Homo sapiens: one gene and its partners. The protein of the gene in region 1 purifies or fractionates together with the protein of each later gene. This does not show direct contact. Each region holds a gene or a part of one and is shown in the gene's direction. Other genes may lie near its edges. The genes, in order: VSIG4, TNFAIP2, XPR1, SGPL1, ATP2B2, SH3BP4 and AP3S1.

What was found.
Region 2: the proteins of VSIG4 (region 1) and TNFAIP2 purify together in Homo sapiens (co-immunoprecipitation; 2 studies listed by BioGRID and IntAct, with this or other methods). This does not show direct contact.
Region 3: the proteins of VSIG4 (region 1) and XPR1 purify together in Homo sapiens (affinity purification with mass spectrometry; 3 studies listed by BioGRID and IntAct, with this or other methods). This does not show direct contact.
Region 4: the proteins of VSIG4 (region 1) and SGPL1 purify together in Homo sapiens (affinity purification with mass spectrometry; 3 studies listed by BioGRID and IntAct, with this or other methods). This does not show direct contact.
Region 5: the proteins of VSIG4 (region 1) and ATP2B2 purify together in Homo sapiens (affinity purification with mass spectrometry; 3 studies listed by BioGRID and IntAct, with this or other methods). This does not show direct contact.
Region 6: the proteins of VSIG4 (region 1) and SH3BP4 purify together in Homo sapiens (affinity purification with mass spectrometry; 3 studies listed by BioGRID and IntAct, with this or other methods). This does not show direct contact.
Region 7: the proteins of VSIG4 (region 1) and AP3S1 purify together in Homo sapiens (affinity purification with mass spectrometry; 3 studies listed by BioGRID and IntAct, with this or other methods). This does not show direct contact.

Annotation. Positions count from the first base shown.
Region 1 is NC_000023.11:66,037,281-66,041,414, reverse strand, and holds the start of VSIG4 (V-set and immunoglobulin domain-containing protein 4 isoform 1 precursor), read left to right. Parts: upstream 1-1,334; 5' UTR 1,335-1,416; coding exon 1,417-1,471; intron 1,472-4,134. UniProt on the Homo sapiens protein: Phagocytic receptor, strong negative regulator of T-cell proliferation and IL2 production. Potent inhibitor of the alternative complement pathway convertases.
Region 2 is NC_000014.9:103,135,700-103,137,939, forward strand, and holds the end of TNFAIP2 (tumor necrosis factor alpha-induced protein 2), read left to right. Parts: 3' UTR 1-109; coding exon of another isoform or gene 110-304; 3' UTR 305-1,740; downstream 1,741-2,240. UniProt on the Homo sapiens protein: May play a role as a mediator of inflammation and angiogenesis.
Region 3 is NC_000001.11:180,806,522-180,810,021, forward strand, and holds part of XPR1 (solute carrier family 53 member 1), read left to right. Parts: coding exon 1-36; intron 37-3,500. UniProt on the Homo sapiens protein: Inorganic ion transporter that mediates phosphate ion export across plasma membrane.
Region 4 is NC_000010.11:70,853,948-70,857,447, forward strand, and holds part of SGPL1 (sphingosine-1-phosphate lyase 1), read left to right. Parts: intron 1-760; coding exon 761-908; intron 909-1,840; coding exon of another isoform or gene 1,841-1,873; intron 1,874-3,500. UniProt on the Homo sapiens protein: Cleaves phosphorylated sphingoid bases (PSBs), such as sphingosine-1-phosphate, into fatty aldehydes and phosphoethanolamine. Elevates stress-induced ceramide production and apoptosis.
Region 5 is NC_000003.12:10,345,087-10,348,586, reverse strand, and holds part of ATP2B2 (plasma membrane calcium-transporting ATPase 2), read left to right. Parts: intron 1-2,449; coding exon 2,450-2,556; intron 2,557-3,011; coding exon 3,012-3,203; intron 3,204-3,500. UniProt on the Homo sapiens protein: ATP-driven Ca(2+) ion pump involved in the maintenance of basal intracellular Ca(2+) levels in specialized cells of cerebellar circuit and vestibular and cochlear systems.
Region 6 is NC_000002.12:235,039,017-235,042,516, forward strand, and holds part of SH3BP4 (SH3 domain-binding protein 4), read left to right. Parts: intron 1-1,871; coding exon 1,872-3,500. UniProt on the Homo sapiens protein: May function in transferrin receptor internalization at the plasma membrane through a cargo-specific control of clathrin-mediated endocytosis.
Region 7 is NC_000005.10:115,904,435-115,907,934, forward strand, and holds part of AP3S1 (AP-3 complex subunit sigma-1), read left to right. Parts: intron 1-2,386; coding exon of another isoform or gene 2,387-2,422; exon of another isoform or gene 2,423-2,427; intron 2,428-3,500. UniProt on the Homo sapiens protein: Part of the AP-3 complex, an adaptor-related complex which is not clathrin-associated. The complex is associated with the Golgi region as well as more peripheral structures.

The DNA of each region.
Region 1 (4,134 bases):
CAAAGGAGGGTTCTGTGAAGTTCAGGGTTTCCTGAGTGAGGACCCGGTGGGAAAAAATGGCTGAAATTTCCAGTGAGATGGAATGAGTGCAGTACTCAAAAAACAAGGAACAACCAGCCAAGGGGGATTGGGCCCTAGAGGCAGAGGTGATTGATAGAATTCCATGTAATAATGTGTCCTGAAATGCTGGAATGTCTCCTTAGCCCGTGCACAGCTCCAAATCATCTGCATGCAGCCACCCCTTGGCAAGTATGTTTCTTTATATTCCCACTCCCCATCTCTGCACAAACTCCTCCCTCCCCTGACCAAGTCCTTTCCTATCCCTCCAATCAAAGAGTAAACTAAGCTTAGCTGTTACTTACAGTGCAGTATGAATTTTTGGGATGTATTTGTGCTTTTGAAAGTGCTTATTGTTTCAAAGCTTAGTAGACAAAGCGCAGTGCCAAACCTAGTTAGACTGCTGATGAAATTACAGTCACTCTGGGGCCTGTGAAGAGGAGCAATTTCTGGAGCAGTTGAGCTTTGCTAGGAGGCATAATATTACTCTCTTGTAGGTCAAGGGCCTGTACCAATTGGAAGTCAATGAAAAATTCAACCTAATACAGCATACCACTAATGGGCTGCTGCACTGGAGGCTAGGCTTAAATTTCCCTTAAAAGAAGTAAAAAATAAATTCCTTATGAAAAAGCATGGAGAACATTAATGAAAATGAATTCTCCCTTACCATCAGAGAGGTGGAGCCATTGTAGAAAGTGATTCAAAGAGCTTCCCCAATATGAGATATGAGGCATATTCACCCATAACAGCCTTATCCATTGGCTTGTCAATTATTCAAGCTTTGATGTGTAGAAAGCCCTTTAATACACTAAACTCTTGTACTCTTAAGCCCAAAAGCACCCCGGGCCCAACACCCTGTCCAGTTGCATAGGCTGCACAGGCAAGGGTTAACAGTACAACTAATGAAAATTGGGTAGGTCAGCAAAGTTGATCTCTTCTCCCTGGGCTCACCACAAAGGAAAACACCGCCATACTGGAGTGGGAAGACTCATCCCAAAGGTCGCCCCCACAACCTCTGAATCTTGTGGAGGAGACTCAAAATAAATACAGCCTAGGAGATCAAAGACCAGAAAGCCCCATTGGCTCCAAGGAAAGTCAAGTCAATACCCTAGCAGGGGGAAGAATTGCTTCACTCATCCTGGAACCTCCAACCCCAAGGAGGTGGGGGAAGGGGGGCACCCCACATGACCTGTACTGAAATAGGGAAGGAAGGGGAATGTGTGATGGGACTAGGAGTTTGAGTGAGAGATATAGGGAAGGAAGGGAAGTAAGCAGTCACAGACGCTGGCGGCCACCAGAAGTTTGAGCCTCTTTGGTAGCAGGAGGCTGGAAGAAAGGACAGAAGTAGCTCTGGCTGTGATGGGGATCTTACTGGGCCTGCTACTCCTGGGGCACCTAACAGTGGACACTTATGGTAAGGCAGAAAGGGGGGCCTGGCTGCCATTGCTGGCTTAGGCAAAAGGCTAGAGGGTTGGTGTTTAATGTCTACTATGGAAAGCCTATTCCTACTGGGCAGGTGAGTCTTCTCAGCCAAACTCTGCAGGCTCTCTCAGCCTTGAGCAAAACGGATGGATGTAGTTGAAGGCTGCTGAAGAAGCCAGAAGGCAAGTTTGGGCAGAAATTGAAAAAGGATTTTTCTCTTGGAAAACATCTGCATTATTTTCTAGGGCTTGTATCTCAGGGGCATCAAGAAGGTTCCCAATGACATCCGAATCTTTCCTCCATCTGCTGTCTCTCATCTAAAATTCTACAATTGGACTTAACCACTCTGCTTCCAAGCTTTGGTCTCTGTTAAAATATACAGCCCCCGAAGAAGGAGTGTTTTCTAAGAGTTGGATAGGACTATAGAAGTAACCTATACCACCCTTCATTGTCATGAATAAGTGCTCAGAAACATCCAGTAGTGATTGAGATTTCACTGTTCACTACCTCCCCAGACCATCTAGTCCATCCAGGAGCAGCTCCAACTGTTAGAAAGTTCTTATTTGTGTTGAACTAAATCCAGTTCCCTCTGACTTCCATCCAAAAACCCCAGCTTTGCTTCTTGGGGCTACACAGAACATAGATGCTTCCTTGCCCTGTGATAGCCCTTCAAAGCCCTGAGGACAAGTACTATGTCTCCTTGACTCTTCTCTCCTCCAAGCTGAACAGCCCCAGCTTTTTCAACTGGTCTTCATAGGACTTGGTTTCTTACCCATTCCTGGGATAACTCACTTCCCTATAGACATGGCTCAATTTGTCTGGGCTATTTATGGGCTGGATACAAATCCCAAAGGAGGATGGACTATTCCATAGTGGCATTATTTCCTTGGAGCTTGGGAAGCTCTATCCTCATCTACACTCCTGAGAAGTGAGATGGATTTTCAGGAAACTCAACCTGGGTAACAGCTAAGTGAGATCCAATATAGGGTAAAGGGGGATTTTGCTGCTTCCCTATCATCCCTAGAGAAAAAGGCTGGATAGGTGTTAGCTTGGTGTCACTTGTTAGGTCAGAAAGAATCCAGCTTTCCGTAGCTGACTCTGATTAGGTTACCCTATCCTGGGGCTCTGTGACCCATCACACTCTGGAACCTCAGAGTTAGAAAAGACTCTGAATTAAGTCAACCAAGAGAAAAAATAATTTGCCCCCAAGCCAAAGAGCATTAGTGGCAGAGTTAATGCTCCTGAAAAAACATTTTTCTTTCTATAACTACCACATTTCCATTCTCTAGCAGGTTTTATAATGTATCTCTCTACCTTCTCCAAGTCTGTTGGTTTGAGCTAGGGCTTAAGCCTGGGGCTTGAGGGAGCATTTTAGAAATGTTAAATTTAAATCCTTTGTTTGTGTGTGTGTATGTGTGTGTGCATTCATGTGTGTGTGTGTGTGTGTGTGTGTGAGAGAGAGAGAGAGCACTCATGTGTCTTGTTCCTTCCCCAGCCTATGAGCTTTTCCAGACCTGGAAGCAGGCCTTCCATTTGTACACAGGATCTTATACTATAGACCTCAGGCTCAGGTTATGCTGAGCTGCAAATAATACCTTCCCTCTCCCTGGACCTCATTGTTCCTAGCCCATCTGTACAGTGAGGAGGTTGACTTGACTGGTCTTAAAGGGGTTTCTCAGCTGGACAACTCTGTGGGACTGCAGCTTCACTGCTAAAAACCCTGTAGCGGCCAGAGTAAGCTGCTAGCCTCTTCCTGTGGGGCTAAGAGATATGTCAAGATAATCAAAATTTAAAAAATTTCTAATATTCACATTTTATATACATTTTAAACATTTCAGAAACATTTTATAAACATCTATTATATAAGTTAATCCTCCATCCAGGAGGCATTCCAGGAAAGGGAGAGAAGCCAGTCATGTGGGGGAATGGGATAGAGATATGGAAAATGTCAACCTCTTTGTGATGATGGGAGGAAGGGGATTCAGAAAGAGACCTAGAATGGGTCTTATAAAGGAGCACACACCTAGTAAATTCAACCTTTCTTTTCTTCAGTGCCATTACACAGGCATCAGACATTTGCTTTTATAAGGCTGGGTCTCAGGACCACATTAAGCTCAATACTGTATATATACTTATCAGCAATAAGTATATATACTTATCAGCAATAAGTATATATACGTATCAGTAATAAGTTTATATACTTAGTAATAAGTATATATACTTATCAGTAATAAGTATAATATAATATAATGTTATATATTATATATAAGTAATTATCAGTAATAATTATATAATTATTATATATTATATATAAGTAATTATCAGTAAAGTGGAAGTAATAATAAAGGAAGTAATATAATATAATAAGTATATAAATATATAATATAATATAATATATTATGAATATATTATATTATATTATTATTATATAATATATATTATATATTGTATTATATAATTATTATATATATTATATTATTATATAATTATATTATATATTATATTATTATATGATATATATTATATATTAATATTATTACATAATATATATTATATATTATATTATATTATTATATAATATATATTATATATTATATTATATTATTATATAATATATATTATATATTATATTATTATATAATATATATTATATAT
Region 2 (2,240 bases), on another chromosome or scaffold:
GAGCCCCTCCACAGTCGGCCTCATGACTGTCCTCCTCGTGGGTGGGGCCGAGGGCCCTCTTCAGCTCTCTGGAGACAGGGGCCGAGCCTCACCCATCTGCCCTCTGCAGCCCAGGGCCGCCGTGAGCGGGATTCAGCAATGGTGGAATGGAAGACAGAACTGGAAGAGAAAGAAGGAAAAGATGAGCTCTCGTCTGGCAGGGGCTTTTAGGGTCCTGTGGCGAGCTGTGAGCACCGCCAGCATTAGACGTCACATCCAGGTGGCCCCACGGCCCCTACAGGCTGGCCCTGCAATGGGGCCCTGAGCCCTCCCTCTTCATCCCCCAAGGCCTCAACTAGAGGGTGGTCCCCCGAGGGCTTGGTGTCTACTACCGAAGGGCCCAAGACCTCCTGGGTCCTCTCAGGCTCCCCCTTCCCCAAGGCAGGGACAGGCCCTGGGGGTGCCACCGTGGGCCCTGCCACCCAGAAGTCTGGCTGAGGTCTGGGCAGGGGCAGGGCAAGCTTGACCTCTCACTGTTGACCCTTTGGCCTCTGTATTTGTTTCCTATTGCCGTGACAGGTTTCCACAAACTTCGTGGATCAAAACGAGGTCTTCCAGTTCTGCGGGTCAGAAGGCTGACCCGGGGCTCAAATCTGGGTGTCGGCAGTCCTGCACTCCTTCTGGAGGCTCTAGGGGAGAATTCATTTCTGGCCTTTTCATTTTTAGAGGCTGACCGTAATTCTTGACTTCAGGCTCCTCCATCTTCAGAGCCAGCTGTGGGTAGTTGAATCTTTTTCCCGTCACCTCATTGAGGCCTCCCCTCTCCTGCCTCCCTCCACCACTTTTTTTTTTTTTTTTTTGAGACAGGGTCTTGCTGTGTTGCCCAGGCTGGAGTGCAGTGGCCTGGTCATGGCATCAAGGCTCACTGCAGCCTGGACCTCCTGGTTCAAGTGATCCTCTTGTCTCAGTCCCCTGAGACAATCCCCCACGCCCAGCTACATATTTTTTGTGGATACAGGGTCTCATTCTGTTGCCTAGGCTTGTCTGGAACTCCTGGGCTCAAGGGATCTTGTAGCCTTAGCCTCCTAAAGTGCTGGGATTATAGGCATGAGTCACTGTACCCGGCCTGCTCTACCGCTTTTAAGGACGCTTATGATCACATTGCGCCTACCCAGAGAACCCAGGTCGTCTTTCTATTTTCAGGTCAGCTGATTAGCCACCTTAGTTCCATCTGCAACTTTAGTTCCCACTGGCTGTGTAACCTAACATAGTCACAGGCTCTGGGGACTGTCACGTGGACATCTTTGGGAGGCCGTTATTCTGCCCACCGCACCCTCCGTTCATCCCCTGCCCTGCCGGGCACCTCGCTCTACCCCAGGAAAATGTGAGCTCGTTTTCCTGCTCGGCATGTGCTCCCCCTAAGGCTCTGCTCCTCCCTGGGCCTGAAAGTTCCTTCTCAGCCTGAGAGGGGGCCCTTCGGACTCAGGCATGACTCAGCCCGGCTGATGCCTCTGCAGTGCTGAGTCAGGATTTGGGGCCGGCTCTCTTGGGTCCGTCCCCTTTTCCCAGGTACTGCCTTACAAAGCTGTGGCCAGGAAGTGGCCGGTATAAAGGATGCCCAAGGTCTTTGTACGTGTGTAGGAGTTAGCGTGTTTGATATTGTTAATATAATAATAATTATTTTTTAGAGTACTGCTTTTGTATGTATGTTGAACAGGATCCAGGTTTTTATAGCTTGATATAAAACAGAATTCAAAAGTGGCTGTGGAGTGATTTATTTTGGGAGCTGCACAATGATGGGGGGCCCAGCCAGGCAGCCTTAGCAGCTTTCTGAGCCTCTAGGGGTCCGGGCAAACCTACCTAGGTTCTGTGTCAATCCCCAGCCTGTCCCAGCCCCCAGAGCACCTCATGTGGTCCAGGCAGGAGATGGCCCACCATCCCCTCACTGTGAGCAGGAGCTTTGGAAGTGTCTGCCTGTAGGGCATGGACAGTCACTTCACCCTTCCGTGCCTCAGTTTCCTCATCTGTAAAAAGGGGACTGTGACCCTTTGGGGCTTCCTCCACCGTCCTTTACTGAGGAAGAGGGTGGGGTGGACACGGGGCAGCCATTTCAACCGCATGCACGGGACACAGAGTGGGAACTGACTCTTACCATGCTGGCATTGACCTGAAAGCTACAGCTGTGGACACAGGAGGTCTGGTTTGTATTCAGAGACGGGCTCAGCTGCCACGGAAGGGTGGGCCTCTCCGCAGCCAATCTG
Region 3 (3,500 bases), on another chromosome or scaffold:
AAGCGTTTACGTGTCCCCCCTTTGGGAGCTGCTCAGGTTAGTATTTGGTTCCAGTAGTTTGTTTGGTTTCACCTATTTAATAATCAACACAGTATTTAGCTGGCCCCATTATCTTAAAAAAATTTTCAGCCAAAGTTTATAAGTAGTTGCTATTTTTCTTATTTTAGTTTTTTAAACATTATATGCTATATTTTACTTCATTCTGAATTATAATGTCTTCCACCTTTCTCTTCTCATACTGTACTTTCTTGTTTATTCTTACTGACATGTTAACTTACTGGTATCATCAAATGATTAAGATGTGATTTAAAAAAAATGATCTGGTGGGTTCAGATATACTGGATTGCTATATAGCTTACTCCAAAAAAGCATTTATTAAATGATATCTACACAGTAGTTATAAAAAAAGAAAATTTATTAAGTGATATCTTCTGTGTCATAAAACAAGTCTCAATAAATATAGAAGGATTTAAGTCATGCAAAGTATATTTTCAGACAACAGTGGAATAGAAATCAATAACAGAGCTTCCATAGCCTAATGAAAGGCATCTATTAAAAAAAAAATAAAACCTCTACAATTATTATCATACTCAATGGTAAACACTGCATGCTTTCTCCCTAAGACTTGGCCCAAAAAAGGGTATTCACTTTTAACACCTGTATTCAACATTGTGCTGGAGATTATAGCCAGTGCGGTAAGGGAAGAAAAAGAAATAAAAGACATTCAGGGTAGAAACGAAGAAGTAAAACCAGTGGGGTTTTGCCAGTGACTTGATGATCTATGTAGAAAATCTAGTGAATCTATAGAATAGCTACTATAACTAACAAATGAGTTTAGCAAGGTTGCCAAATACAAGACCAATATGTAAAATCATTTGTCTAGATACTTGCAAGAACAATTGGAAATCAAAAAATGTTAAAGCAATGCTGTTTATAATATCATCAAAATATACAATGCTTAGTAATAATTCTGACAAAAGATGTGTAAGGCCTTTACATTGAAAACTACAAAACACTGCTGAGCAAAATTAAAGACTTGGATGAGAGAGATGCTATGTTCATGGGTATATTGCACACACCCAGTATTTTAAAGATACGTTGTTTCTTCCTGAGGTGATTTATAGATATAATACGTTCCAGCTCAGAAATCTCAGAAGACTTCTTTGTAAAATTGATAAGCAGATTTAAAAATTTATATGGAGGCCAGGCACGATGGCTCATGCCTGTAATCCCAGAAATTTGGGAGGCTGAGGCAGGTGGATCACTTGAGGCCAGGAGTTCAAGACCAGCCTGGCCAACATGATGAAACCCCATCTCGACTAAAATACAAAAATTAGCTGGGCTTCGTGGCACATGCCTGTAATCCCAGCTACTTGAGAGGCTGAAGCACAAGAATCACTTGAACCCAGGAGGTGGAGGTTGCAGTGAGCCGAGATCGCGCCACTGCACTGAGTGACAGAGCAAGACTCTGTCTCCAAAAAAAGAAAAGTATATGGAAAGGCAGAGGACCTAGAATAGCCAAAGCAACTTTGGAACATAAATTGAAGGATTAACATTACCTTATGAAAGCTTATTAAAGCTGCAGTAATCAAGAGAGTGTGGTAATAGTGTCATGGTAGGCAAATGATCAATGGACCAGAATAGAGTGTCCAAAAATAGACTAACATATTACGAACAACAGATATTTGATAAAGATATAAAGCAGATTAGTGGAGAAGGGTAGCATTTTCAACTAAGGATGCTGAAACAGTTGAATTCCATATACCAAAAAAAAAAAAAAATGAGCTTTCATCCATACTTCACAACATACAGTTCTAAATGTACCATAGATCTAAATGAAAACTGGAAACTACAAATTTCTAGAAGAAAATATAGAAGAAAGTCCTAATGACTTTGGGTTATGCAAAGATTTCTTAGAAATGACACCAAAAGCACCTCATCAAAATTAAAAAACGTATGCTCTTCAAAAGACATATTAAGAGAATGAAAAGAAAAGCAAGAGACTAGCAGAAAATATTTATAAAACATATCTGTTAAAGGTCTTATATTTAGAATATATAAAGAACTCCAATACTCAATAGAAGGAAAACAATCAACCCAACTTTTAAAAATGGGCAAAAGACCTGAACAGTTCTTCACAGATGTACAGGTGGCAAATTAGCATGTGATAAAATGCTCAATATCATTAGGCATTATGGAAATGCCAATTAAAACCACGGTAAGATAATACATTGTCTGTTAGAATGATTAAAAAAGACTAATCATACTAATGATGGAGGAGTAGGAACTCTCTTTTCTAATATGCTTTGGTGGAATATAAAATGTATAATGAATAAGCACATTTGAAAACAGTTTGGAAGTTTCTTAAAAGTGTACACCTGCCATATGGTCTAGCTATTACACTCCTAGGTATTTACCCAAGACAAGTGCAAATATATGTTCATATAAAGATTTCTACACAAATGTTCATAGCATCTAAACAACCCAAATGTCTATCAGTAGGTGAATGGATAAACAATTTGTGGTATATCCATACAATGAAACACTACTTAGCAATAAAAAGGAATAACTGATTGATAAATGTAACAATGTGGATAAACCTCAAATTAATTATGTGGAGAGAAAGCAGAAAAAAAAGGTACCTACTATATGATATCATTAACCTAAGACTCCAGAAAAAATGCAAACTAATAAATAGTGACAGAAAGGAGATCAGTGGTTGCTTGTGAATAGAGTGGGGTAGGGTAGGCTGGGAGGAAAGGATTACAAAGACACATGGGAAATTCTTGGGAGTCGTGGATATGTTCTTTGTCTTGATTATGCTGATGGTTTTGTAGACGTTTATGCAGTTTCAAAACTTATCAAATCGTACACCTTAAATATATACAGTTTATTGTATATCAACTTAGTCAGTAAAGCAGTTTTTAAAAATCCTAAGCATATTATTGTCAAACTGCTTGGAAATAAAGAGAAGAATCTTAAAAGCATCCAGAGAGAAAAGACACAAATTCTATACTTTAAGTATGTGCAATTTTTTTATGTCAGTTGTTTTTGAATAAACATTTTAAAATTAGTTTCAAAAAATTAGGGTGTTTAAGAATGCCTGTAGAGATGGTAAAGCTAAAGAAAATGTGGAAGTGGTTATCTCTGGTGCGGAGGGAAGGTTTTGGGATCAGGGAGGAATAGGGAATTCAAAGTTAATGGAAATGTTCAGCTTCTAAATATGGATAGTAGTTATAGATTCACTTTATTATTCATTTCTAACAGTCCAAATAAATTATATGCATTCTTTTGTATATATGATAAATTAAACAATTTTTGAAACTAAAGGTAACTTTTTATCTTTGGAAAAGACAAATGACCATCTTTTGGATGCTTTCAGTCAGAAACTAACAATACAGTTAGAATCTGTTACTCTATTAAGTAATAATAAGACAGAGGGGAGTCTCAATGCTTTGTTTTTGAAGGTTTTTAGAAAACAAAATACCTGAAATGTACTA
Region 4 (3,500 bases), on another chromosome or scaffold:
ACAAGGACCAGAATCACTTTTACTGCAGCATGGCCAGTTTTCTGGCCACTGTTCCTAGTTATACCTTTGATTCTTTTACACACACACTGTAGCTGCTGCCAAGGCAGGATCAAAGTCCAAATACTGCCCTCAAGGATGTGCTGACTTTAGCAATGCCAACCAAGTGAAGCAGCAGTGATGTCAATGTGGCAGAGAAAAGGGTTATGGGGAAATTGGGTGCAACTTTTTTTTTTTTTTTTTTGAGACAGAGTCTTGCTCTGTTGCCCAGGCTGAATGGAGTACAGTGGTGTGATCTTGGCTCACTGCAACCTCCACCTCCTGGGTTCAAGTGATTCTCATGCCTCAGCCTCCCAAGTAGCTGGGATTACAAATGCCTGCTACCATGCCTGGCTAATTTTTGTATTTTTAGTAGAGATGGGGTTTCACCATGTTGGCCAGGCTGGTCTCGAACTCCTGACCTGTAATGATCTGCCCACCTCGGCTTCCTGAAGAGCTGTGATAATAGGTGTAAGCCACCGCGACCGGCTGAGTGCATCTTGACCTTTAGAGAGAAGCTTCGCTTTTCAAATTTTTAAGAGGCTATTGTACATGCCAGAAAGTAGCTGATCAGTCAGAATATCACCATATATCTTTAGGAAAAATGTTAGTTTAGTTACTTGTGCGGTGCCTAGCATTGAGCAGTTGCTTGACTGTCATAATAATTCTGCTGTCTCTACTGTACTCTTGCATCTGGATAACTTTGTCTTTCTTACCTTTGGAGATTCAAGACAAGTTGAACAAGACCAAGGATGATATTAGCAAGAACATGTCATTCCTGAAAGTGGACAAAGAGTATGTGAAAGCTTTACCCTCCCAGGGTCTGAGCTCATCTGCTGTTTTGGAGAAACTTAAGGAGTACAGCTCTATGGGTATGATGCTTGGCATATACATGCTCTCTACTTCCTTAAAGAGACAGGTTTTGTCATTGTTTAATGTTCACATAGGTTAAGAATAACTCATCATTGGTTAATACATGTTTAGGAGGGCCTACTCTCTGTTTCACAGGTTGAATTTCCTATTTTTAAAATTATGTTTAGATTCATCCTTCATCCATAAAGCAAGCAAATCTCAGAGACAGTGGAACTTGGCTTTTATTTCCTTTTGTAAGCATGAATAAAACAAATATATTTGTGTTTAAGAAGAGAGAATATAAGATATGTAATACAAATGAAATACAGATCCATGTAAAAATGTGAAATCTGCATAAAGGCACAAAAGAAAATAAGTCACTATAATTCCACTATCAAAGATAAACAGATGGTGTCTATCTTTATGCATGTAGCTATAGGTAGAGCTGTCTATATAGTTTACATCTATCTATATATGTATATCTGTCTGTTTCTGAGAATGCTAATAGTGTTTGTCTGTGTGTATACACATGTATGCATGAGCACATATGGGATGGATAAATAGACCAAATAGCTTGGTGCTTAAGAGCGTAACCCTGGAACCAGCCTGGATTCATACCTTGGTTTGCCACTTAAAGTATGCCTTTGGCGAGTTACTTCTGTATGTCACAGTTCCTGTATCTCTACAATGGGGATAGTAATAGTAGTACAGTACTTACCTGAAAAGATGATTATGGGGATTAAATGAGATCATACATGTATAAATGTTTTATAGTGCCTGGCATATAGTAAGGATTCAGTAAATGTTAAACATTATTGCTATTATTAACTCAAACAGATTTATGTTTGTTACTGATTAAGATCATATTACAAGTACTTTTTAAAAAGAAGCTTTTTAGTTTGATATATTTACAGAAAAGTAGCAAAGATGATAGAGATTTCCCTATACCCAGCTTCTCCTGATGTTAACATCCTCTATAACCATGGTACGTTTATCAAAACTAAAAAATTAACATTGGTACAGTGCTATTAACTACACTACAAATTCTATTTCTAGTTCATCAGGGTTTTTTTTTGTTTTGCTATGTTTTGTTTTAAACTAATGTTCTTTTTTCTATTCTAGGAGCCAACCAGGAGCCATGTTGCATTTTGACAAATACCCTTATTTTTTATTTTTTGAGACAGAGTCTCACTGTGTTGCCCAGGCTGGAATGCAGTGGTGTGATCTCAGCTCACTGCAACTTCCACCTTCCAGGCTTAAGCAATTCTCGTGCCTCAGCCTCCCAAGTAGCTGAGATTACAGGCGTGCGGCACCATACCCAGCTAATTTTTTGTGTTTTTAGTAGAGATAAGATTTCACCATGTTGCCCAGGTTGGTCTCGAACTCCTGAACTCAGGTGATCTGCCCACCTTGGCCTCCCAAAGTGCTAGGATTACAGGTGTGAGCCACTGTGCTCGGCCTTGACAAATACCCTTACAATTTCTAAGTGACATGTGTTGAGGTCTTGACATTGAATAGTACAAAATTTGATATAGTCTAGGATGTAGATGAATAAAGCAGTGGTTAGCACTCTAAAACCTGGTGTTAAAGATTTCCATGATTATGAGACCTGGTTGCCGCCATCATATTGCCTTCTCTTTAATGTTTAAGTCACTGTCCATTGCTGTATTCTCTAGCATCAGTAAAAGAACAGGAAATGAAACCAGTTATCTTATTTTTGAAAGGCTGGTGACCACTGGTCTGAAGCTGTGTATAGTACAGAGCAGTGTCCTCTAAGGAAAGAGTGAAAGTCAAACGGGCAGCAAGCCAGAGCTTGGCAGATTGCTGTAAGAATGAGTTTGTCTGTATATTTACCACTTAGTTTTCTGTTCTCAAGAGCTGAAGATCTTTGCTTTGGAGAGCCCTTGGCTCCATGCAGTTTTTAGTTGGTGTGTTTCCGTAATAGCTTTCTCACTACCCACTTTCAATAGGGCACAGCTGCATTGTAGCACAAGGACCTGAGACACCCATATCAACAAATTTGTGGGTAAAATGAAGAATGTCTCGGGGAGAGAGGAAAGTGGAAAGTCAGATCTTATATTCTACTCAGGAACTTTACTTTTCTTTCCACACTGGGATAAAGGAGGTTTATCCCAATGTTGACTGTGTTCCTGATCTTGAATATGCTACAGCGTGTGCTGCTGGAAGCAGGTAACTAGTTTTATGTGGGTTTCCAGGCTTGGCTTAAGGGAGCCGGCGTCTGAGACCGGGGTGCTCATGGTTTATACCTCATTGTGGTTTGTTTGCTGGTTTCATCTCTGATGATAGTGTGCTGAAATTTCACACTTTTCATTTTGCTTTCTTCTGCCAACTCTGCTCATAATAGTTCTCAAAATTCCTAGGACTGGATAGGAAAGGAGAGAAGAAGGAAGCTATTGCAGAAAAAGGCCACTCCAAAGCCATATAGAGAACAAAAAATAAGTATAGACAAAGGCAAATGTTCCTGCTGTTAGAAGGCAGTTGAGGATGAGGACAACATTATTATCAGATTGCCTTTATTGTAGCTAAATGCTATTAATATCTTTTTCACATTGCTGATAATAATGATTTTTCATCTTTATTTTATTGTGCTA
Region 5 (3,500 bases), on another chromosome or scaffold:
GATCCCCAGATGCCTTCAAGGATCTGGGCCAGGACCTCGGGGTGGGAGAGGGAAGCTACAGGAGACTGGAGCAGGTGGGAGGGCAGCAGATCCTGCAGGGCCGCCAATGCCCACCACGAGCACCCCGTCATGGCCTGCACCGTGTCACCAGGCACAGGAACATGGGAGGGTTTAGAGGGTAGAAGCATCATTTTAGAAAACTTACCCTGCAGTGCAGAGCACGGCCTGGCAGTGGAGGGACCTGTAGGATTGTCCTGCTTAAGAGTTGTCACCTGCCCACAGTGGTGACACCTCAAGTGGAGCTGCCAGGTGCGGGTCTGAGAAAGTTTGGGTAGTGGAGGGGTCTGGGCTGGGTGGTGGTTTGCATGTCATGGAGGGATGAGGAGCAGGAGGGTCTGGGATCCCATCAGTCTATACCTGTTGGAGAAGAGCATTGGACATCGAGCGAGGAGGGAGAGCAGGCCTGAGACAGAGTCCTGGGTGGCACATGTGGGTGGGGAGAGAGGAGCTGCAGAAGCCAAGAGCTGCCCGAGTGATGGTGCAGGCTGAGAACCTACAGAGGAGGCCAAGGGGAGGAGGCTAGAGGGGCAGGAGGATGGTCAGTGGGGAGTGGTGCCGGGAAGACAAGGAAGGAGGCCTGTGGAGGAGGAAGGTGTGGTCCATGGTGGAAATAGTTGCTGAGAGGTCTGCGGGGACAGAACAGAAATGTGACCATAGGAAGCAGCCACAGGGAGGCCCCTGGTGACTGCACACAGTCAGGCCACCCCAGGACTGGAGGCAGGGAGGCGTCTAGGGAGAGGTTTCCTCCCAGCTTTCCGCACAGCTTGAGCTACGCAACGGTCCGCACCACCTGGGAGCCACAGGGCAGAAATTTGACCCGTCCCTGCCTTGGAGGAGCCCCCAGGCTGACTGAGGGAACTATGGAAACTCAGGCCTAATGTCCCAAGGGGACAAGCTTGGGGAGGCTGAGTCCAGGACGGTGGAACTGAGGGGTCACCGACAGCTGGGTGGGAGCAGCCCAGAACGATTCCCAGAACACACGGCACTGCAGCTGGGCCTGAAAGAGGGTAGAGCTGCAAGGGAGCAGGTTGGGGGCACAGTGCCCCAGGTTATGGAACTCAGCGCCTCATTCCACAGGCTGCTGCCGTCTGCTAGGCACAGAGCAGAGAGATGCGCAAGGATGGAGCAGCACATAGAGTTACATGGATCTGATTAAGGGCAGGCAGGGATCCTCAGAGGGTCAGAAAGGCTTCCTGGGAAAAGCAGCCTCTGAGCCAAAAATACAGTACAGGTGGGTGACAGGAGTACCTCCAGCCAAGGGAACAGCCTGCCCAGACACAGGGCCAGTGAGAGCTAGCTCTGTGGGACCGTAAGCACAGATTGGGGGTGGCCAGGGGATGAGAGAAGAGAAGAGGTCAGGATGTGAGTGAGGCCTGGTCACAGAGGACTTCATAAGTGGAGCTAAGAACATGGATGTTATCCTGAGACCAAGGGGGGAAGCAGGAAAACGACATTCCGGGGATGGCTGGGGGACGGAACTGGTTCAGACATGGGTGTTAGAGAGATCCTGAGGTTGCTGTGGGGAAGCAAGTTGGAGGGGGAGTCCAGAGTCAGTGAGAGGAAACAAAGTGATGCTGGTGGCAGAGGGTGGAGACAGAGAAAAGGAAGGGTTTCAGTGGGATTTTGGAGCCAGAATTGGCAGGCCTTGGTGATACATTCAATGTGCAGAATGAGAGACCCATGGATGCTGATACCCAAATTCCTGTCGTGCCCATGGACATCCCTGCTCGCAAGCCCCATGAATGAGGAGTCCCACAAACTCCACAGGTCCCCACCGATGACATCCTTCACCCACCCTTTTCCACTGGCCCCAGCTCAGTGACTGGGGCCACATGTCATTTGTTCATTCTGTTATTCGTTGAATGTTTTATTGAAGATGAATGTCTGGAGGGAGGTCAGGGCCAGAATGGTGGGGCAGAGGTCACTGGCAAATGACAAAGCCAAGGCCTCCTCAGCAAGCCTGGACTCCCCAGGGAGAAAGTGCTGGCTAGTGGTGTCGGGAGGAACAGATGGTGAGGTCCTGCTGAAACCCTGGGAGCCCTGCTGAGGCAGAGGGGGCCCTGAGCACAGTTAGAGGATACAGTGTTTCTGGTTAGGATGGATGCCAATGTGGCCACAGGTTGCAGACAGCAAAGAGGGGGCTGGAGAGGTGAGCAGGGCCCGGGCCACAGGGGGCCCCAAGTCGGCACCAGCCCAGTAAGGAGCCCACTGTAACCTGCTGGCAGCTATAGGCCAGCCTGGAGCTGGGAAGAGCCTGGATGGAGGGGGCGGCTGGACAGGGACCAGAGAGGAAGCCATGCCCAGCCAGGCCCCTCCCGAGGACCAGGGCTGGCCCAGGCTGCCTCCCACCTGAGTGGCCCAGGGCCTGAGCACACTCCTGCCCCAACAGGCATCATCGACAGCACACACACTGAGCAGCGGCAGGTGGTGGCCGTGACGGGGGACGGGACCAACGACGGGCCTGCACTCAAGAAGGCCGACGTGGGCTTCGCCATGGTAGGAACGGCCCACAGAGGGCCTGGGGTGGTGGGGGCTGGGGAGATTGGACTACACAACCTTGGGCTGGCTACTCAGGAGCCCCAGTTCACACTTGGCCCACCCGCCATCTGCCGTGGGTGCCCACCCTTCTCGAGACTCAGCCTGACCCCGAGGTCTTCCTGGAAAGGCATAGGATGCTTCTTGCTCTGGGGGAGCTGTGTGAAGGGGGGCACTTGCAGGCTGAGGAGGAAGATAACAGAGGGGGAGAGGGGGCCAGGGTGAGGCTTCCTGAGGGTGAAGGGAGCTGGGTCTGTGAGGAGCGTGAAGAGTGGGGTGTCCCTGTGTGGTCTGGCTGTGCTGGGCCCACTGGGAGTTGTGTAGGACTGAGGAAGTGGAGGGAGTGAGGATGGTGATGCTAGAAGTGGTCACCTCCCCCGGCCACCCCACCCAGCCTCCTGTCCCTGTCCCCACAGGGCATCGCAGGCACTGACGTGGCCAAGGAGGCCTCAGACATCATCCTGACAGACGACAATTTCAGCAGCATCGTCAAGGCAGTGATGTGGGGCCGCAACGTCTATGACAGCATCTCCAAATTCTTGCAGTTCCAGCTCACCGTCAACGTGGTGGCCGTGATTGTGGCCTTCACAGGCGCCTGCATCACGCAGGTGGGTCCGCAGGAGACCACACCAAAGCCTGGGGGAGGGCGGAGACCCCCCACAGAGGCTCGGGGGCCTTAGGGTACTCCAGGTTGTCCCTGTCAGAACAGCCGGGGATGAGGCACCCATCGATGGAGCACCTGCTGGGGGCCAGGAACTGCATCACAGAGCTCAGGTGCAGGCACTGGCCCCAGGGGAGTCGAGGACATGAGGCTCAGAGAGGTGGCGTGACTTGTTCAAGGTCACCCAGCAAATGGGAGCTGTCAGGCTCACAGCCTGGCCCTCACTGCAGGAGGCAGGAGAGGG
Region 6 (3,500 bases), on another chromosome or scaffold:
TGCATTTTGTCCTCTCCAAAGCTCATTGAGGAAATACACTTTTTGTCCACCATGAGTGGAGTCTTAGGCTCTGGAGATCACACAGTTTCTAAGGGCTCCACTCGAGTCTGGGTTTAGTGATCCCAGAGCCGGGTTCTCTGAGACACCCAGATAGACGGGCCTGCTGTAATTTCACAGGAGGAGGTAGGTGGGGCTTCAAGGCCCAGGGATGCTCCCAGCTAAGCGCATCTCTGTAACCCAGTTAATGTAAATGAATAGAAACTGTCTACCTGATTTCCTAACACTTTCCCAAGGAAGTGTGATTATTTCCTTTCAAAGGAAAAGGAAACTGGCAGGTGATTTTCTGGGGTCGGGGGGGCAATTTGATAGAATACGATGACTGTGGACTTCATCACATTAGAAAAGATGTAGGTTTAGTTTAACTAAAAACGGATTCCTTTCTTTGGTCATTTGCTTTGGCAACTTAAAAAAAAAAAAGAAAGAAAGAAAGAAAGAAACGTTTCCTTTCTTTCTTTCAATTGTTTATTACGGGAAGCCAGAATGTCAGCAGACTCCGTAAGTGAGGCAGTTTGGGAGGTGGGGGAGGGGAGTCCTGGGGAGAAGTATATGTGCTTATTTTCTTCAGAAAGAGTGTTCTTCATCTTCTGAATATATCTTCTCATTTAATCATATCCATTATTTTTCAAAACACACCACTTGTTTGGCTGACTTATTTTTGCTGTTTCATTTGCCGTCTACATTGGTAACATACAGAGTTCAATGGCAGGAGCCATGAATTAACTTGATTCACTTTTTGAAGGGTTGGAATTTTTCAGACTGCTTCAACACTTGTTCAATGATAGTATGAGCTATGACTAGGCATAATCTCTCATTTTCAAGGTATGTAGACAGTCTGTTTTCATGTTGTGATTTTGAATGATAATTTAAAAGAGGTTGGGCCAGGCGCAGTGGCTCACACCAGTAATCCCATCATTTTGGGAGGCTGAGGCGGGAGGATCACTTGAGGTCAGGAGTTTGAGACCAGCCTGGTCAACATGATGAAACCCCATTTCTACTAAAAATACAAAAATTAGCCAGGCATGGTGGCACACACCTGTAATCTCAGCTACTTTGGAGGCTGAGGCAGGAGAATCACTTGAATCTGAGCGGCTGAGGTTGCAGTGAGCTGAGATCATGTCAATACATGCCAGCCTGGGTGGCGGAGTGAGACACTGTCTCATAAATAAATAAATAAATAAGTAAAATAAGAATAAAAGAGGTTGGAAGGAACTGACTTCAGAATTCTTACTTTATCTGAGGAAACAGTTTGGTGAGGAACAGGTTGAGTTTGGAAATTTAAGAAGCAGGTTGAGGGAAGCTTTCCATCCAGAGGCAGAGCTTGGAATCAGCTCATACATGTCATTGCGGGAGTTTTTGGAATCTGTTCATTTCCAGTCCCTGATCACATGCAGTGGTCACCTAACTCACCGTGTCACCGTGTTTTCTAAGTTAATCACATTCAGTTTCTCTTTGTATCTAGTAGCAGTTCTTTTAAGAAGAATTTTAACGTTGCCCAAAATGAGATGTTTAGGGCGTAGGGCATGTTAAATATTCCATTGCACTGATTTGCCTTTCTGTGAGTGATGGAGAGGCTCCTCTGTGGTCTTTCTGCCGGACATAGGCTGTCGATTTTGAAGGTGACCAAGTAGCAGGAACCAGTTCGTTGGCCAGGTAAATTACCTACTGAATTTCACTTTGGTTTGTTTCTGTTGGTGACTTGCCTGGGTTATTGTGCACCTGTCTGTTTACCACCGTCCTCTCTCCTTTGGGAAGCTCTCCGGACACCCCGCCGGCCTTGCCCTCACCATCTGTTTTCTTTGTGTTTTGCACAGTGCCTTCTCCCAGTGCCTTGCTCGTAGACAACCCCACACCTTTCGGAAATGCAAAGGAAGTGATTGCGATCAAGGACTATTGCCCCACCAACTTCACCACACTGAAGTTCTCCAAGGGCGACCATCTCTACGTCTTGGACACATCTGGCGGTGAGTGGTGGTACGCACACAACACCACCGAAATGGGCTACATCCCCTCCTCCTATGTGCAGCCCTTGAACTACCGGAACTCAACACTGAGTGACAGCGGTATGATTGATAATCTTCCAGACAGCCCAGACGAGGTAGCCAAGGAGCTGGAGCTGCTCGGGGGATGGACAGATGACAAAAAAGTACCAGGCAGAATGTACAGTAATAACCCTTTCTGGAATGGGGTCCAGACCAATCCATTTCTGAATGGGAACGTGCCCGTCATGCCCAGCCTGGATGAGCTGAATCCCAAAAGTACTGTGGATTTGCTCCTTTTTGACGCAGGTACATCCTCCTTCACCGAATCCAGCTCAGCCACCACGAATAGCACTGGCAACATCTTCGATGAGCTTCCAGTCACAAACGGACTCCACGCAGAGCCGCCGGTCAGGCGGGACAACCCCTTCTTCAGAAGCAAGCGCTCCTACAGTCTCTCGGAACTCTCCGTCCTCCAAGCCAAGTCCGATGCTCCCACATCGTCGAGTTTCTTCACCGGCTTGAAATCACCTGCCCCCGAGCAATTTCAGAGCCGGGAGGATTTTCGAACTGCCTGGCTAAACCACAGGAAGCTGGCCCGGTCTTGCCACGACCTGGACTTGCTTGGCCAAAGCCCTGGTTGGGGCCAGACCCAAGCCGTGGAGACAAACATCGTGTGCAAGCTGGATAGCTCCGGGGGTGCTGTCCAGCTTCCTGACACCAGCATCAGCATCCACGTGCCCGAGGGCCACGTCGCCCCTGGGGAGACCCAGCAGATCTCCATGAAAGCCCTGCTGGACCCCCCGCTGGAGCTCAACAGTGACAGGTCCTGCAGCATCAGCCCTGTGCTGGAGGTCAAGCTGAGCAACCTGGAGGTGAAAACCTCTATCATCTTGGAGATGAAAGTGTCAGCCGAGATAAAAAATGACCTTTTTAGCAAAAGCACAGTGGGCCTCCAGTGCCTGAGGAGCGACTCGAAGGAAGGGCCATATGTCTCCGTCCCGCTCAACTGCAGCTGTGGGGACACGGTCCAGGCACAGCTGCACAACCTGGAGCCCTGTATGTACGTGGCTGTCGTGGCCCATGGCCCAAGCATCCTCTACCCTTCCACCGTGTGGGACTTCATCAATAAAAAAGTCACAGTGGGTCTCTACGGCCCTAAACACATCCACCCATCCTTCAAGACGGTAGTGACCATTTTTGGGCATGACTGTGCCCCAAAGACGCTCCTGGTCAGCGAGGTCACACGCCAGGCACCCAACCCTGCCCCGGTGGCCCTGCAGCTGTGGGGGAAGCACCAGTTCGTTTTGTCCAGGCCCCAGGATCTCAAGGTCTGTATGTTTTCCAATATGACGAATTACGAGGTCAAAGCCAGCGAGCAGGCCAAAGTGGTGCGAGGATTCCAGCTGAAGCTGGGCAAGGTGAGCCGCCTGATCTTCCCCATCACCTCCCAGAACCCCAACG
Region 7 (3,500 bases), on another chromosome or scaffold:
AAACATTTTCCAGTGTTCTCTTTTAAATTTAAAATAGTCTTGCATTTTTCTTTATCTCAATTTCCCATTCCTGTTGGTTTCCCAAAGGAGAAGTTTATAGTGGTGATTTAGAGCTAAGATTATCTTAACTAACTATATGTTTTGTTTGTCCTATAGCCAATTTTTAAAATATTGGCTTTTGAAAGTGGAAAACATAAATTAGGTTAATAGAGAAAATTTTGTTTTAGGACAAGGAAAAAGACTCATAATTTAATTTAGTATAACTGACTTGCAATATATTATTTAGTAAAGAAAAGATTATTATAAACCCTGAGCTATTGCTTTTAAAGTCTTAAAAGAACTTAAAATGTGTGTCATTTGTTAAACATTGCTTTGCAAAACTGTATGGTTATAGATTTTAAATGCCAAGGGACAAACAGTGATGCAATCCTTTAATAACTGGTATAAATGAATGAGTATCTAGTAATTTGTGAATTCTGCATAATCATCTGTAAAAAATATTGACCAGTTGTCTGGAATTTTCACCTTTCTAGGTAGTTAACTCCTTTTCATTGGTGGTGGTCCTTCTTTTTCTTCTGCTACTTAAGACATTTATGCCTGGTGTTCCATTATTGGAATGCTAAGCTTGTGGGAGTTATTTATATCCTACTGCTCAAGGTCATCCCCAAGGTCTGATTTTTCACAAAAAAAAGTTTGCAACCTCCGGCATAAATGGGTTAATGTGCTATATTGACAAAAGTTATGAAGGACCTATAATTATTGCATAATGGGTATTTGCTTTTTGATTGTTGAATAAAACTTCGTTAATGAGGCAATTTTTCTTATCTATAAAGAGCAGTAAAATGCGTAATTTACATTTCAATGGAAATAGTTATAAGAATACTATAACTTAAAATCTATTCACAGAAATAATGCTATTTAAAATAGTTTAGAATACTGGTGATTACTTCTATTATTCATTCCCTGATCATCTCGCATCATACATAATTGTTATCTGGTACCAAATTAGTTTCTCTTCTTTTGTCTTTTACAAGAAAGTATGTTTTAAGTCTGATTGGGGATAAACTACAAAATTATATATTTTCTATACATGTAACGTCTGCTAATATTTTAGTTATGAAATCGGATTTCAAGTCAAAGTGAGGCCATTTAGCCCTGATCATCTTTTTAAAACAGCACTGAAAATTATGATGACTAATTTTTCGTAGCTTTTGTATATTTTAAGTATGTTTGAAAGGCTTCTAGCTTTATTCCAGCTAGAATGTCAAAAGCTTTCATATGTTTCATGTCCATGTTACTTCAATTGGTTAAATTTACCAGAGATATTACTCTGCAGAATAATCCAAAATTACTTGAAACAAAGTATAAACTTTTCCTAATCTTCTTACTAAATTTCAGTTAAAATGTATTATATAAGGACAAACTTAATGACTTGTTTGGCTGGGCGCAGTGGCTCACGCCTGTAATCCCAGCACTTTGGGATCACTCAGGTGATCTGCTCACCTGAGGTCAGGAGTTTGAGACCAGCCTGGCAAATATGGTGAAATCCCGTCTCTACTAAAAATACAAAAAAATTATCCAGGCATGGTGGCACTTGCCTGTAATCCTAGTTGCTCTGGAGCCTGACGCGCAAGAATCGCCCGATTCCGGGAGGCGGAGGTTGCAGTGAGCTGATATTGCACCACTGCACTCCAGCCTGCGTGACAGAGTAAGACTCCGTCTCAAAAACAAACACACAAAAAAAGACTTGTTTAAAATCGAGAATGTCATGATTGATGAAAAGAACTGGTTATCAATATTTTTAAAAATTATTTAAGTAATATCTTAGGAACATCATTTATATTTAAAAATCAGTCTGGGTATAATTGAGACACAGCTTTTTAAACATAACATGCATTTATCTAGGGGCCTTTGTCAGAAATCAGAGCTTTTATTATGTTGGTCTAAAGTTAGTACATTTCTGGTAATGGAAAAAAGTGAACCAGTTTAATTCCCAATACCTAGACAGGTGGAAGCAAAGCTCTGCCAGATCCTGAAAGAGAGAAGCAAAGATATACTCTGAATGTATTTCCATCTATTCTATTTTGATAGAAAAATGGTTTACTATAACATTGGAATATTGGGAGAGGAGGGTTTAAGCTGGGAGGTTGATGGGATTCGGGGGAAGTATAAGAGGCACTCAGGAACCTGCCTAAGAATAAAAGGACTCCCTGGGGGTGGAGGTAGAGGGGTGGGGTTGGGGAGATCTGTTAGCTTTTATGTATTTCATGTTATTCTTAAGATGGATAAATGGGTCTGAATTTAGTCACTACTTTTTGAAAGTCAGTCCTCTTTTTTTTCCGAACATCCTGATCTTTCTAGCTCTTTCCATTCTTCTCTCTTACAGACCTTTATCTTTCAGTCTCCCAGACAGGACAGGTAGACAAGGTATTGCTGACTTTGAGAAATATGTACTATAACAAAGGGAAAGCAAAATGATGTCAAAGGCAATTAATTATTTAGGCCAGACTCAAAAATTCTTTGTGTTAATAAACCCATATAGTCCCTGTAGCCTATTTTCCATTCTAGTTTCTCCTTGTAGTTTCTTCATCTTTTATTGGACTTAGTGTATTTTACTAGTATATCATTGATGTCATGTTTGTTCTGTTTTGTCTGCCTGCATTGTAAAAGGAAAGTTTAAATTTTTTTTAAACACTTGTCATCTAACTGACAAATTGCATTTGCAGAAGTGACAATTTACTTTGTATATAAAAACGTAAAATTTATTTTGAGCATCATATAGCAGAACCAATCTTAATTTAACTCTCACAGATTTGTTTTTTTTCCATCTCTAAATTAGGATTCTAACATAAAATTGCCTGCTGGGTTTTGGAAGCTGTGAATTTAAAAACCAAAAGCTGAACCTTCAGAGTTTTGCATACAAAATGGGAAGCAGTGAAGGCTTAGAATAGTGACTGTTAAATAGTACTTTTTCCCCTCAAATGGTTTTCAGTTCCAAAGTCTTAACAGAATTGCTTTTACAGTTTTGACCTGCAGGTGCATATTAACAGTGGCCAACAGAAAATAAGATCAGAAATCTTATAAAACTTGACTGTATTTCAAACTAGAATGCTCGAAAAATGGAATTACCAAATTACCAAATCACCAAAATACAATGGGTTTTCATTGTAGCAAACCTTCTGACATCCAAACATGTCATAATCAGAATCAATAAAAATATATTAATGTTTTAGTATTGAATTAAAAACCCTGAATATTTTTGCAAAGCGTATTGGCAAATATTGGAAATATTTTTAATAGACCTCTAGTTTTACAAAACTAATTTTTCTTCTGATATTTCCTGTACGTTTTTTCACACCATAAATTAACTGTGTGAATTACTTTTTTAAAAGTTCCATGTACGTGGTGATGAGCAACTATTTTGTGTGAAACCATGTAAGCAAAAGAAATGTTTATAAGGTCTCTGATTGAAAATTTCAAAATAAAAGTAATTTATTGAG